Linked DNA regions of Homo sapiens. The protein of the gene in region 1 purifies or fractionates together with the protein of each later gene. This does not show direct contact. Each region holds a gene or a part of one and is shown in the gene's direction. Other genes may lie near its edges.

What was found. The genes of interacting proteins can lie anywhere in the genome.
Region 2: the proteins of SPATA24 (region 1) and TRIM9 purify together in Homo sapiens (affinity purification with mass spectrometry; 2 studies listed by BioGRID and IntAct, with this or other methods). This does not show direct contact.

The regions. Positions count from the first base shown.
Region 1 is NC_000005.10:139,401,066-139,408,613, reverse strand, and holds the start of SPATA24 (spermatogenesis-associated protein 24), read left to right. Parts: upstream 1-4,524; 5' UTR 4,525-4,553; coding exon 4,554-4,670; intron 4,671-5,865; exon of another isoform or gene 5,866-5,920; coding exon 5,921-5,986; intron 5,987-6,568; coding exon 6,569-6,699; intron 6,700-6,788; coding exon 6,789-6,859; intron 6,860-7,548. UniProt on the Homo sapiens protein: Binds DNA with high affinity but does not bind to TATA boxes. Synergises with GMNN and TBP in activation of TATA box-containing promoters and with GMNN and TBPL1 in activation of the NF1 TATA-less promoter.
Region 2 is NC_000014.9:50,980,097-50,987,120, reverse strand, and holds part of TRIM9 (E3 ubiquitin-protein ligase TRIM9), read left to right. Parts: intron 1-954; exon of another isoform or gene 955-976; coding exon 977-1,165; coding exon of another isoform or gene 1,166-1,197; exon of another isoform or gene 1,198-3,699; coding exon 3,700-3,741; exon of another isoform or gene 3,742-3,839; intron 3,840-4,155; coding exon 4,156-4,179; intron 4,180-4,621; exon of another isoform or gene 4,622-4,798; intron 4,799-5,017; coding exon 5,018-5,321; intron 5,322-7,024. UniProt on the Homo sapiens protein: E3 ubiquitin-protein ligase which ubiquitinates itself in cooperation with an E2 enzyme UBE2D2/UBC4 and serves as a targeting signal for proteasomal degradation.

The DNA.
Region 1 (7,548 bases):
GAGCAAATAATAAAATGATTGCAGCCATTTTTTTGCAGGTGCAGTGGCTCATGCCTGTAATCCCAACACTTTAGGATGCTGAGCCAGGCAGATGGCTTGAGCCCAGGAGTTCAAGACCAGCCTGGGCAACGTGATGAAACCCTGTCTCTACCGAAAAATATAAAAATTAGCTGCACACCTACAGTTCCAGCTACTAGGAAGGTTAAGGTGGGAGGATTGCTTGAGGCCAGGAGGCGGAGGTTGCAGTGAGCTGGGATCGCGCCACTGCGCTCCAGCCTGGGCGACAGTGTAAGACTCTGTCTTTAAAAAAAAAAAAAAAAAGTTGCTGTTTGAAGCCATTACATTTTATGGTGGTTTTTAGCAATAGACAGCCAAAACACCTTTTCCTTGTCCCCATATTCCCTTATTCCCTCTCTCTGTTAAGTTCCATCAATTTTACCTCCAGAATATCCTAAACCTACTCTCATCTCTGACACTATCTGACTCTCAAACTACCATCCACTTTCACTGCAGTAGCCTTCTCGGTTAAAGTGGTCTCTGTGCACTTACACAGCCCCACTCCAATCTGTATACCTCACTGCAACCAAAGAGATCTTTTCCAAGCATAAATTGGATCACGTCATCCTCTTGCTTAAAATATTTCAGTAGCTTTCTTTTGTCCCTAAAATAAAAATCACCAAAATCCTTAGCATGGCCTACCTTGCTTAGCAAGGCTCTGCCAAGTTCTTGGTCTCTACCCACTACCCAAGCCCCCTCTTGCCCTATAATCTTTTTCTTTTATGCCATGCTACCCTTTAATTACTACACTCTACCAGCCCCTTTTGCCCCAGGGACTTTGTATACACAAAGTATACACTGCTTCCTCTTTCTGGTATCCCTACCTACTCATCTGCCCCTACCCTCTTTGCTAAGTGCTTCCTAGTTACCTTAATAGGCTTCAGCTCAAACATCACTTCCTCACAGAAGCTTTCCCTTGCACAGAATCTTAGCCCCACCTGGCTAAGTTTCTCTTTAGATTTATCTGGTTGTTTGATTATTGTCTGACTTTTCCCACTAGACTAAGTTCCTGACTGGTTTTACCTGAAATGAACCTTGAAGGGAGTGGTGCCCCATCTGTCATAAGGATTTGCTCTAGAAGTGCAGCCCAAATTCTTTGACACTACTCCCATTGAAAGGTGGTGGGGTAGGGGGAGGAATCTGTGTGTCCTCCTCTGGAATCTAGACTCTGACTCCTTGACCAATAGAATACAGCAAAAATGACACTATGCCAGGTATCAGGCCCAGGCCTTAAGAAACTGGCATCTTCCATTTTCTGTCACTTTGAATGATTATCTTTAACCCAGTCTTCATGCTATCAGAAAGTCCAGGCAGCCTATGGAGAGGAACCAAGACCTTTGGTCCTCAGCCCTAGCAGAGCTCCCAGCTGACAGCACCAACTTGCCAGTCACGTGAGTGAGCCATGTTGGAACTGGAACTTCTAACTCCCCGTTGAACCATCCCAGTTCACACTGCATGGAGCAGAGATAAGCTTTCACCATTGAGCCTTGCCAAATTCCAGATTCATGAACAAAATGATTTTTTTCAATGACTTAAAAAAATTGGGGGGTGGTTTATTATGCACCAATAGATAACCAGAACATCAGCCAAAATGACAAGCCTGTGCAGAAAGGCAACCCTTCCCTGGCAGGATCACAGAGCTGTTTGTGATGTCATGTCATCCTGAGTCTCACTGAGTCCTGGTTGACCAGGAGCCCAAAGTGCCTTTCAACATATAGAGGAGTCTGTGGCAGTGCCCAACCAGGGTGACCACCCCTCATGTCCATGCCAGGAAGCAGGTGCAGACCTGGATCCAGGGTTCTCTCTTGTTCATAAGCTTCCACCCCCAGGTGGCTGCTGGAGCCTACTGCTCTCCAGGGTTTTGCCCCAAGTACGCAGAGAGCAGCCTGTTCCAGCTGGTGAAGGTGGATGTTGGATATCAAGGGACATCAAGCAGTGCCTCATGAAAGATCCTAGGGAGGAAGTGCAGTTCTTGGGGAAGGCTCAGGAATCACTGCCCCAGAAGAATGTGCAGCTTTGTGAAGGGTGATTCAGGTGAACATTCACATTTGGTACACCAAGTTCTGAGAGGGTCTGTGCTGAGGCACACAACCTACACAGTGCCCTCTAGGCACACACTTTCCAGTACAGTAGCCAGTAGCCACACATGGCCATTTAAACTAAAAATTTAAAAATTTTAAAGAGCCATGATTAAGGTGATCTTCAGAAAATAATAAAAAATTTAAAGCAATTTCTCAGTCACATGAGCTACGTTTCAACTGCTGAAGAGCCACATGTGGCTAGTGGCTATTGAATAGTGCAGCTGTAGAACATTTTCATCACTAGAAGTTCTATTGAACTGTATTGTTCTAGGCCCTTTAACAGAGGTCGGCCGGGCACAGTGGCTCACGCCTATAATCCCAGCACTGTGGGAGGCTAAGGTTGGCCGATCACCTGAGGTCAGGAGTTCGAGACCAGCCTAGCCAACATGGTGAAGCCCCGTCTCTACAAAAATACAAAAAAATCACCTGGGTATGATAGCAGCTGCCTGTAATCCCAGCTACTGGGGAGGCTGAGTTGGGAGAATCGCTCAAACCTGGGAGGCAGAGGTTGCAGTGAGCCAAGATTGCTCCACTGCACTCCAGCCTGGGCGACAGAGCAAGACTCCATCTCAAAAAAAAAAGAAAAGAAAAAAAGAAAAAAAAAAGAGAACATGGTGAAACCCTATCTCTACTAAAAATACAAAAAATTAGCCGGGCATGGTGGCGGGCGCCTGTAGTCCCAGCTGTTCGGGAAGCTGAAGCAGGAGAATGGTGTGAACCCCGGTTGGGGCAGAGCTTGCAGTGAGCCAAGATCGCACCACTGCACTCCACCCTGGGCATCAGAGCAAGACTCCGTCTCAAAAAAAAAAAAAAAAAAAAAGAGAGAGAGGTCAGCAGAGATGGCCTTGTCTCCAAGTCCATGAAAATAAACGCAAGAAACAAAACAAGGGCTCCCGCTGAGAGAACCACAGGGATGGCCAAGTTTGTCAGGCCCCCCGGGGGGTTTTGGGGAGCGGCTTGAATGACTTACCCTGAGCTTTCTGCCTCCTTTCATAGTCACTGGTAACTTTTTTTCCAAACTCCTTGTTAGTATAGTCATTTCCTACTTGGGGGTATCAAATTCCATAACTTCCACCCATGACGTGCAACACAAATGCAGCACAACATCCTGGTTAAGAACATGAACTCCAGGCCCAGCGCGGTGGCTCATGCCTGTAATCCCAGCACTTTGGGAGGCCGAGGCAGGCGGATCACCTGAGGTCAGGAGTTCGAGACCAGCCTGGCCAACATGGTGAAACCCCGTATCTACTAAAAATAAGAAAATTAGCCAGGCGTGGTGGCGGGCGCCTGTAATCCCAGCTACTTGGGAGGCTGAGGCAGAAGAATCCCTTAAACCCGGAAGGTGAAGTTTGCAGTGAGCCGAGATCACGTCCCTGCACTCCAGCCTGGGCGACAGAGCGAGACTACATCTCAAAAAACAAACAAACAAAAACACGGACCCTGGAACCAAACTGCCCATAGCAGAACTCCGTTCCACAACTTACTAGAGTGACCTTGGGCAAGTTATTCATTCTCATTCTCATAGAGCCTAGGTAAAAAGGGGCTGATAGGAGTTCCATGAGGGTCACATGAAATAATATAAACATAACGGTGCCACGAAATAGTGAACACAATATATATTCGCTCTGATGTTCTCCAAACCTAATCTTATTTGGGTTTCCAAGAAAAAAAAAAAAGCCTTCAATAGAGACTTGGTGAGTGTGCGTAATCACCGTATCCTTCCCTGACTTCATTTTACTAAACTCTCCTCCTTCAAGCCCTCTTCAGTCCTCCTAATCTCTTCAGGGTCCTCCTCCTCGGGTGGTGGCACATGACTCTAGTGCAGACTCTAGTGCCCAGAGCCTGGTATCAGAGTATGAAGACTTTGATCTCAGGTGTAGCCATTCTCATTTTTTATCTTCGTCTATCTTCCGTGCTTAGGCTTAGGACCCCTAAGTACTAAGTGTGTTCCAGGAGGCTGGAATCTCATACAATGGAGGAAATTTGGAGATTAGGATAAAGATTTGGAGAAAGAGGCATGAGAAGCTAAAGATGCAGGAGTTGCCTATGCTGGCTCTTGCTTCGTGGTCATGCAGTTTAACAGGCCCTGGGTGAAGGCTGAGGGCTGCTGTTTTGAGTGTTGCCTGCTCGCAGGCAAGGAAAGTACAAGCCGGGCCCTGCCGGCTTCTCAGGACTGCGTGAGAAACAGAAGACGCAATAAAAGCGCAATTTCCTGTAAACTTAAATGCCTTAAGGGTTGTCAGCAGTTTCCCCGCTCCAGGCGGCTCCTTTAAGAGGCGGCCCCTCGCCCCGCTAACATAGGAAGTCCCCGCCCCCCGTTGCCAGGGTGCTCTGTGGCGTCGCATTCTCATTGGTGGGCGACGGCGAGGATCACCCCCGAGGCAGCCATTTCCAACTAGCTGGCGGGGGCGGAAGATGGCGACGCCCCTCGGGTGGTCGAAGGCGGGGTCAGGATCTGTGTGTCTCGCTTTAGATCAACTGCGGGACGTGATTGAGTCTCAGGAGGAACTAATCCACCAGCTGAGGAACGTGGTATGCAGCCAGAGGAGTTTGGGGAGAGGCGGGGCCGGATGCCTCACTGGTGGGGGCGGGGCCAGAACCTGTTCCGATGCGGGGGCCGTGGCTAGAACGCATGGCCCATGGCGTCATCAGGAGGAGGCCGGGCTCAGTCGGTAGGGGTGGAGCCAAAAAGGGGCGGACCTTCCTGAACCAGGGAATTTTAACTAAAATCAAGCCATATTCTCCCTTCCGTTTGCCTGGTTGCTGCAAGAGCTGGTAGAGAGTCCCTGAGCCTCAGTTTCCCCATTTTCAGTGGAGATGACGTCACTGAGTTCCCATGGCCCTCCTGTGCAGGCAGAGAAACTGTCATCCCTTCTATTATGGACACCATTCCCGAGAGTCAAAGGCAGTGCCGTGTTGAATGCAGTAAGCGCAGATTTGGCCCTTGCCAGCGCTAACTTAGGGGCCTCCAAGAACTTTACATGCCTTAGCTTTTGCCTTCTCAATCAAACCCCAGCTAATGGGTGCAAAGCATTGCAGTCACAGATTACCTGGGTAGGCATGATAGAATCCTGGCCATCTGGAGTTCATGGTTTTTCTGGTTTTGTTTTCCTGTCTTGATAAGAAGGTTAGGATGTATCTCCATCTCAGAAATAAAACTGGCTTCACATCTACTTCTCATTCTAAGTTGTTCTTAGACAATTTCTTCCCTTCTGGGAAGTTGAATGTGGGGGAAAGGGGAGAGAGACCTGTCCTATTTGCTACCCTAATGCTCTCATTCAACAAAATATATGGAGCTCTAGGCACTGAATTGCCTTTGATTCCCTGAAGGTACCCAGGTCTTCCTCTTGGCAGCTGACCTTGGCATGTGTGTCCCCACCATCCAGAGTGCTTTTCTCTCTATCCCTCTTCTGGCCCACCCTATATAGCAGTCAGATCTCAGGTCTAACATCCCCTTCTCCGGAAGTGATTCTGACCCTTCCCCAGGCTGGGTTGGGGCCTCCTCTGAGCCCCAGATCCCCTTATGTCTCCCCATCAAGGCACACAACATGTTAGAAGTGCTAACTGTGGACTGCCTCCTCCATGAGACTGGCTGCTCCTTGAGGGCAGCACTTAGAGCTGAGTCTCAGTTTATCTGTGGAACTGAATTCTCCCTTCCCAAGGCCTCAGTCTCATCCTAGGTACCACGAGCATCATCCTGTTATCCGCTTTTGGTCCTGGTCCCTAGAGGGCGCCCCTTCTACTCCAGCCCCAGGCCCTCCCTCAGCCAGGCTCTGTTGCAGATGGTTCTCCAGGACGAAAATTTTGTCAGTAAAGAAGAGTTCCAGGCAGTGGAGAAGAAGCTGGTGGTAAGTAATGGCCTCTGCGGTCTCCTAATCTTCCCCCGTTTCCCAGGATCCCTGTGGTTAGGCAGGCTCATTAAGTATTAGCCTCTGATGGGTGCAGTGGCTCACAACTGTAGTCCCAGCTCTTTGGGAGGCCAAGGCGGGCAAATCACTTGAGGTCAGGAGTTCGAGACCAGCCTGGCCAACATGGTGAAACCCTGTCTCTACTAAAAATACAAAAAAATATATATATACATATATATATATTAGCCAAGCATGCGTGGTGGCAGGCGCCTGTAATCCCAGCTACTTGGGAGGCTGAGACAGGAGAATTGGCTTGAACCCAGGAGGTGGAGGTTGCACTGAGCTGAGATCATGCCACTGCACTCCAGCCTGTGCAACAGAGTGAGACTCTGTCTAAAAAAAAAAAGAAAAAAGAAAAAAGAAAGGTCGGCCTCTGAGAACCTCCAGCCCCTGTAGCAAGGTGGCCAGAATCTCCCTGTGCTCTGGCTTCTGTGTGTCCCTCTGAGAAGGGGGGCTGGTTAAGGGAGTCTAGGAGACCCAAGGCGGCCTAGGGTAATGAGGTGACTGCTGCTGCCCCTGCAGGAAGAGAAAGCTGCCCATGCCAAAACCAAGGTCCTCCTGGCCAAGGAAGAGGAGAAGTTACAGTTTGCCCTCGGAGAGGTAGAGGTGCTATCCAAGCAGCTGGAGAAAGAGAAGCTGGCCTTTGAAAAAGCGTGAGTGGGCCTCAGTACGGGGTGTGGGGTTTGGGGGATGCATCTGCTTGCTAGCCTGCCCACCCTCCCATCTTATCTTCCCCACCCAGGCTCTCCAGTGTCAAGAGCAAAGTCCTTCAGGAGTCCAGCAAGAAGGACCAGCTCATCACCAAGTGCAATGGTAGGCGGGAGGCCCGTGCTCTCCACCACGGTTATATAAACGGGCTCTTTCCTAACCACCCAGTGCCTGTGTCAAAGGCAGGGTTTCACTCTAACACCTGTCCCCAGCTGAGGATACAGGCAGGCCCGGGTGGGCCACACCTTCGAAAAGGCCTTAAGGGACCAGGCAGGCCACGGAAATGAGGGAAGCAGTCGGTGTACTATATTCTTCACCGCCATAAAGGAATGGGCTTGCTCCCATTTTTCCTGAAACATACAACCTTCTTAGTCCACCTTTTGTTTTCCCACTTTTGATGGGTTACTCCTAACTGATACAAGAGGAACACAGGGCAAGCACTGTCCTATTTGGGACCTGATCCTTAGTCTCAGGGTCAGGACTCAATAGGGAAGGATGCATGTGGTGACAGGGGGCTAGGATTGCCAGATCTTTAAAATGGAAACTAAGAGTTATTTTTATTTTTCTAAGACTGGGTGTCACTATGCTGCCCAGGCTGGTCTCAAATGCCTGGGCTCAAGTGATTCACCCACCTCAGCCTCTCAAGTAGCTGGGACTACAGGTGTGAGCCACCATGCCCAGTGAAACCAAGTTGTTTTATTTTTTTTGAGATGGAGTCTTGCTCTGTTGCCTAGGTTGGAGTGCGGTGGCACACGGCTCACTGCAACCTCCATCTCCTGGGTTCAAGTGATTCT
Region 2 (7,024 bases), on another chromosome or scaffold:
ATCTGTATTTCCTAAATTATTGCTATTAGACTGAATGTTAAGAAGGCTTCAATTGGCGAAAGATCCACCTCTGACTAGACCACACCGTGCATAGAACCAGCTATTGTTTGACAAAATAGAAAGGACCAATTTTAGTAATTCAGAGAAACTAACTCATGCCCTTCTAAAACCAGATCAAATAATTGTTAAGTCTTTAGTCTGATATAATAATTATCTTCAGGCCAAACCTGACTATCTGAACAGAAACAGATATTTTGCCACCAATGCACCTCACCACTGCCTACAGTCTGTTTATCATTAGAGAAACAAAGATGGTCAAGTGACATCCCTAGAGTCTGATCATAATTCAGAAACAAAGGTAAGGCTCTTTCCCTGCTTACTTGTCCAGCCCTGTCTTCCTTAGACCACCCCACATTTCCTCTCCTATTCAAAGATAGAGTCTGGAGTGTGCTAGTATAAAAAATCAGCTCATCCATCTAATAGAAAAATACACATTAGGAGAGAAATGGGAAAATATGGAATAGGAAACAGTTTGTAAAAAATCACCATCTCTTAGATAGAAACCCTTTAAGAGGCCATTGTTGAATAGGTAGTAACTCCCAGGACAACTGAAGGGGGTAAAATAATATCCTCTTGGTCATCAATAGGTAAAATTTGCCTTTACATTTTGTACATTCAATTCTAAAAGTATTTTATTTAATTAAAAGGAAACCTTCCAATTTTCTACCACTAAAAATCGGGAAAGTGACAACAATTGCCTTTGTTGTTCGAGGTGTCCTCTGGTCTTGGGTCCTGATCTGCCGAAAATTCCCTCCCTGCCCCCAGGCACATTGGTTTTGTAAATGCCTGAGTGTGGCACCCTGTGGGAAAGATGAGGCTTTGTATGAATGCATTGTTAAGGCAGGTCTTGGGGAACCGTGCACGGGGACATAATAGCAGACTTCTGATCTCTAGTTTGCATTGATCTTACATTTAGACACAGATTCAGAAGAACAGACCCTCCCTTTTCCAGTGCCTTCGGAAAGATTGCCGCTCCGTAGAATGAGTCCTTTCTCCTCCACCCTTAATCTACAACCCAGCTTCCCCGGGAGATCCTACTTTGATTTCCGATCCTCACCCCACCAGCTGAGCTTGCATTCCTCTTTACAGTCTCTCAATGCACCGGGTGAGCTGAGCTCCTCAGACCTTTCCCCTTGATCTCTGTGCCTTGAAGGCATCTCTGAAACGCGTGTCTTGTTCTTGCCATTCATGTGCGTGGTGAGGGGGATGAGCTAGTCTCTGTCTGTGGCCTGCTTTCCGTATGAGGAGCATCGGGATGGTGGAGCTTTGTGGCGTTCTTGTTTGTGTGGTGGAAGGAGCAACCATGGAGCTGTGGTCCATGTATTACGGCATTAGAAAGTGATGAGTGAAGTTATTCTTTTCGCACAAGCTGGTACCACCATGGATAACCCGCTCTGTCATCACATGCAGTGGCATAGCACGGCACGGGCGCTGGCTGAGTGGCGGCCATGGCAGTAATGTGGAGGTTTGCAGCCCTTCTGTATCCAGGAAACCAGCAGTGTCTGGGAGACTGGATCAGTGCATCCAGCCTGGAGTGGTCTGATTAAACATAGACTCAAGAGATCTTTATTGACAAAGTACAATAAAAGTAAAAACACACCAACAGCAGAAAGCATCCTATAAAGCAGGCAATCCAGAGAGCAGAAAGTGAAAGCATTTTCTGCAAAAGCCTGTGCTCACTGCTAGGACAGTGGGGCTCATGGCTGAGTGTTTTCCTAGCAATGGGGTGGGATCACTGCTAGCCGAATTAGAAACCCTTAACTCCTAATGCCTAATGACCAAAGATCTGAGTAATCAAAAAGTCTGGACTCCTCGAAGTTTCCCACAGCCAAGCTGGTTGTGACAGAGCCTAAGGCTGATTTCAGCAAAGCTAGACTTGTGTTCCTTTGTAGCGAACACTGCCTAGCAAATAGAATGTTAAAATATATAAGATGCAGACCTATTTGATCTCTTCAGGACTATATTGTAATCATGGATACACATGATGCACATTTCATATTTCCAAAGGTTTCTTTTGGTTTTTATTTTATTCTTTTTGCTCATCCCACATTCTGGAATGAAGAAGGCCACAGCATGACAGTGCAAAAAGGATGCAGGGACTTCAAGCTGTCTTTAAAATGACATTCTTCTTTGTGCTTTTATGTTTCTTATTGTTTTTCTGTGCACTATGGCTTCCCAACATGCTTTGTTATGAAACTCTTTTCCCTTGTGTCTAATGTACTGAAATATCGTTACAGTCTTTGTAATGCACATTGTCTCAAGAATAAAATGAAATGTGAGTTTTGGGATATTTGATGGGTGTATTTAAGAGCATTATTCTAGCTGTATTGTTGAATCTTAAATGTATGATAATGTATTTAAAGTAGTGTAAAAAGATTTCAGAATATTTGTTTTGAAAAAGAGTTGCACAAGGCATGATTCATTTAAAAGTTTTTAAAGCCCTATTCAGATTCTACAAACTTATTTCCAAGCTGAATATGAGAGTCGGTTTTAAAACTCCAGGTATTCCATAGTCACTATGCTCTAACACATGAATAGGAATTGAAGTGATAATTGATAGAAACAAAACATAAAAATCAGCCATGAGATGGGAGGAAACGATTCTTTTGCATGTGAATTCATCCCAGAGAAAAGCAAACTAACCAAAAGTAAGATCATAATTTTTATATTTTGTTTTTAACTCAGCCATTAGTCCTTTTTTATAGTAAGTTGCTTTTTTAATTCTTGTAAAATTCTTTTAAGTCAGCACATTATCCTGCAAATGTTTTAGGAATTAGCATATAAAGGCCTTACTAAATAGAAAAGAAAATAAAATGATCCTTTCTTTATCCCCCAGTGTTCATCAAAACCACATTTTCTAGATCAGTCCTTGAAACCACTGGAAATTGTAGGTCACACACTTTTGAACATTTTAAGACTAGGCAGTCTTCCTCCACACAATGTAATTTCTCATGGGGTACAGGTATCCAAATCTTAAGGAAGGGAGATGGTTGAAAAAGTTCCACAGGGGATTCCAATGTATCTCTGAGACCACACCCACTCCTACCATCCCTCCTCCCCTCCCTCAGGTGAGAAGGATCTTGTCTCCTAAGAAGGAAAGGAGGCAGTTTTAACACATTCGTCATGTCATTATTAATAATTATTAATAAGATGTATGTATTCACAAATGGATTACATTACACATTTAGTTATATTTAATTTGGGCTCAAGTCACAATGAAGACCTTTTGGCATAACCAGAGTTAGAAGTGCATAGAATAGTGAGAGCAGAGTTTTATCAAAATCCAGTGATTTCTCCGTTGCAATTAAGTACATTTTCCCCATTTTTAAAACAGCTAGCCTTCTTACTGTGGAAACTTTAGAGGAAAAGATTGAACTTGGAAGATGAAAAATTCAGCTACAGAGTTTAGGATCAATTGGAGGAGGATTTATTAAATGGTAAAAAGATGTGCTTTTCATTTTGAAAGAGCAGAGGGGCAGTTTTTTACCCAACAAACTAAATAATATAAAAAGGGCTTTGTTTTTTCATGGATCAGGCCTCTGGTATCTATATTCAACTGGTGCTTTTTAAGCGTATACAAGTAATTTTTATCAACCTGGTTGTTGTTTCATAGCGTTGATGTGTAGTATCTCTTTATAGGATGCAATTTTGAGACACAATCTGCACCTTACTCTCAATTAGGCAAGTATACCTATTGTAATTATCTTTTACTTACGTGATTGGTGTGCTCAATTTCCTTCACAAAATAAATGGCGGCAACTTGTCTTATGTCAATAAAATTGTCTAATTGTCATTCTAACCCTATTATAGCAGTTTCTCAAACTCTTAAAAAATGGAAAAGATGCCTGTAGTGTTTAATGTTATGCCTCAAACCTTACTTTTCCCCCAGTTTTCTTTTACATCAGTGCAAAGCACTCTTTATGAGCACTAAATGTGGGTAAAGGTACAAGTCAGAGAGCACCTGTTTAGTATATGTGGCATTTTAAATTGAGTCCTTTTGGGGTACTAGTCTATCAAGAGAGACACATTTTCTTATCCATGTCAATTTTGCTTCCTATCTCTCTCCCCCATGCCTTTCACTTGGAATGACAACAGTTGACATTAAAAAGCTGTTGGCAGGTATGGAATAACCTTATTCTGTTACCAAATAGCAAAGACCAAAGTGCATGTGAGGTGTCTCACAGGTTTAATAAATCAGCAATTACATCTCTCGAGTGTGATATTTATAGGTGGCATTTAGAACTTGGGGCGTAACAATGCGTACAAAGACATCATTCTATCTGCACCTAATGTCCGAAATTCCTACTGCTCCAGCAAAATTTCTGACGTGTTAGTTTCAGGAGTAGCACGCAAACTGTGTTTTTTAAGTTATGCAGACAGCAACCTGTCCTACATGCAAGTCACAATCACTCATGAAAATTAGTTTATGTTGCTTATAGCTTCGCAGCTTGTGAGCTTTCACTAGAGCCGAGGAAGACTTCAAAGCGACTAGATGTTAGCACTTCTGCCGAAGGGATATTTCCTGATTTCACTCCATGTGTTTTATCCCTCCTCCATCTAGGACTCTAGCTCCTAGCCTCCCCGCCTCAGGGGTTACACAGGCATCTTAGCGCATCCCCTCTCCCTTTATGTCTCTGGTGCACTGTTCTGCCAGTCACCAGGTGAAGGGACTTGCACCTTCCAAAATCGATGCCACTTCACTCCCGGATCACCTGGTTGGGAGTGCAGTCTGAGCCAGGTAACCCCTGCTGAATCGGTCGTGTGTCCTCCGTCTGCTTCTGGTGCAGAGAGTACCAACTCCCAGGACGTGCCCCTGTCTGCCCTGGCCCTGGACGCCTCCTTCCTGCATGGCAGCATGAAAACGCTACACAACGCTCCTCACCCGCCCAGGAGTATGTTATGGTGCTGAGCTTGTTGGGTCTGTCTTAATAACCTGATTCCCTTCTGTTGTTCCCAGTGGCCTGGTTTGCTTTCGACCCTGGCTCGGCGCACTCGGACATCATCCTCTCCAATGACAACCTGACAGTGACCTGTAGTAGCTATGATGACCGGGTGGTGCTAGGGAAGACTGGCTTCTCCAAGGGCATCCACTACTGGGAGCTCACGGTAGATCGCTATGACAACCACCCTGATCCTGCCTTTGGTGTGGCTCGCATGGACGTGATGAAGGATGTGATGTTAGGAAAAGACGACAAAGCTTGGGCAATGTATGTGGACAATAACCGGAGCTGGTTCATGCACAACAACTCGCACACCAACAGGTACCCTGCAGCCCCCAAACCAAGCCTTCTTCACGTTGGCTTCTGATCAGGAGTGAGAGCCCCAGTTCAAAAACCTATTACATAGACCACATTCAGGAAATCAAACAGGTGGTCTACATTAAGTAGCACAGGCAATCTATGAGCCTCAGCTGAGTCCATGCTGGTGGTTTACTTTCTATATAATGATAGAGACTTGAGTACTTTCCTACTCCCTTCATTGCTGTATTTCACCCATGGCTGGAAACTAAGAATCCCAATGGATATCCATTATAAGAAAACAATCCAGGATGCTGAAACACCCAGACCTACAACTTAACAGAAAAGCACTTTTGGGCAAGTTACTTCGTTTTTTGAACCTCAGTTTCCAAATCCATCAAATTAGTACAATAAAATTTTTCCTTGTGGGAATCTTCTGAAGATTAAATGAAATATGTGAAAATGCCTTACATTGGAAGCACCTGAAAATAGTAGCCATTCTTCTTATTACGATTCATTAAACTAAAGCTTATGGATGCCAATTTGAATGGCTTTCTACTTATAGAGAACTCTCTTATTACTGTATTAATCCAGAGCAGCCAGTTTGCTAAGGAAAGGAAATACAGTAATCTCCTTGAGGTTTTCTTCTACCACCAAAATATAGATCATTATAATTGAACACATACTATAATGGATTTCCTTTCTCATTTGATTGTGTTCCTCAAATGTATTTTTCACAAATTTCCTAGGCAGAGAAATTTCTACTGTGGACCCTGGTCCACCTTATGCTCCAAGATTTCCCCAGGATACATTCTCATTAGTGTCTCTGAAAAAAAAAAAAAATACAGTAGTGTTCAACCAGATCAAAGGGAAAGCAAGTCAGACATTGGTAGGATAATTGGACCCCACTGTTTTATCTTTTTCTGTATGCTCATCACTGACCCTTCTCCAGCCTGTAGACTCCTAAAGCCTCCTTTTCCCTTGGATAGCTTCTATAGCATTCAAGTGTGTATTATTCGCTGTCACTTGAAGTGAACACACACACCATTTCACCATGAAAGCAAATCCTACTGGATGTAGATAAGTGGTTATCTTCAGTGATCGGCATTTTGTGGAACTCTCTGTCAATAGATTCTCAGTGCTATCACCCAAATGCCACACTTACTTTTTCCCTTTTAGCGTCTTTGTTTTGAAGTGCAGGAGTGAATAATGACATAACCATCACACTATGCAGAGAAACACATTCTTAATGCTGAACACATCTGCTTGCATGCAACCTGCATGTCACTTGTGCTTTCATTGTTAAACCTGTGAAGTAGCAAGAGGCAATTTGTAAACCTGTCTTTTAATGACTATGTACAGTCTGTATCCTGCATGCAAGAGGAAATGAATGACACAAATTCCTGTGCTCTGCTGAGATGAGGACGAAGTTCAATATTGCTAGATCTCAAAAAAATGGGAAAGACAAATCTGATCGTCCATTTTTAATGGCATTTTGTGAAACCATCAATTGAAGCATAAGACACAATTCTTTGTAAAATGGCATTTGTATGCAGGTTCTTTAAAATCACTACATCTCAGAGTATAATTATTTCACTGTACAGAGAAGAAGCCTCTTCTTCAGTGCTGTCATTTCACAGACAGCCTCCAAGTTCTTAATTCAAATGCAACAAGCCAAAAAACTGCTATCCTTCTGGAATGAGTTTTTCTGTTTAATGGATAACATA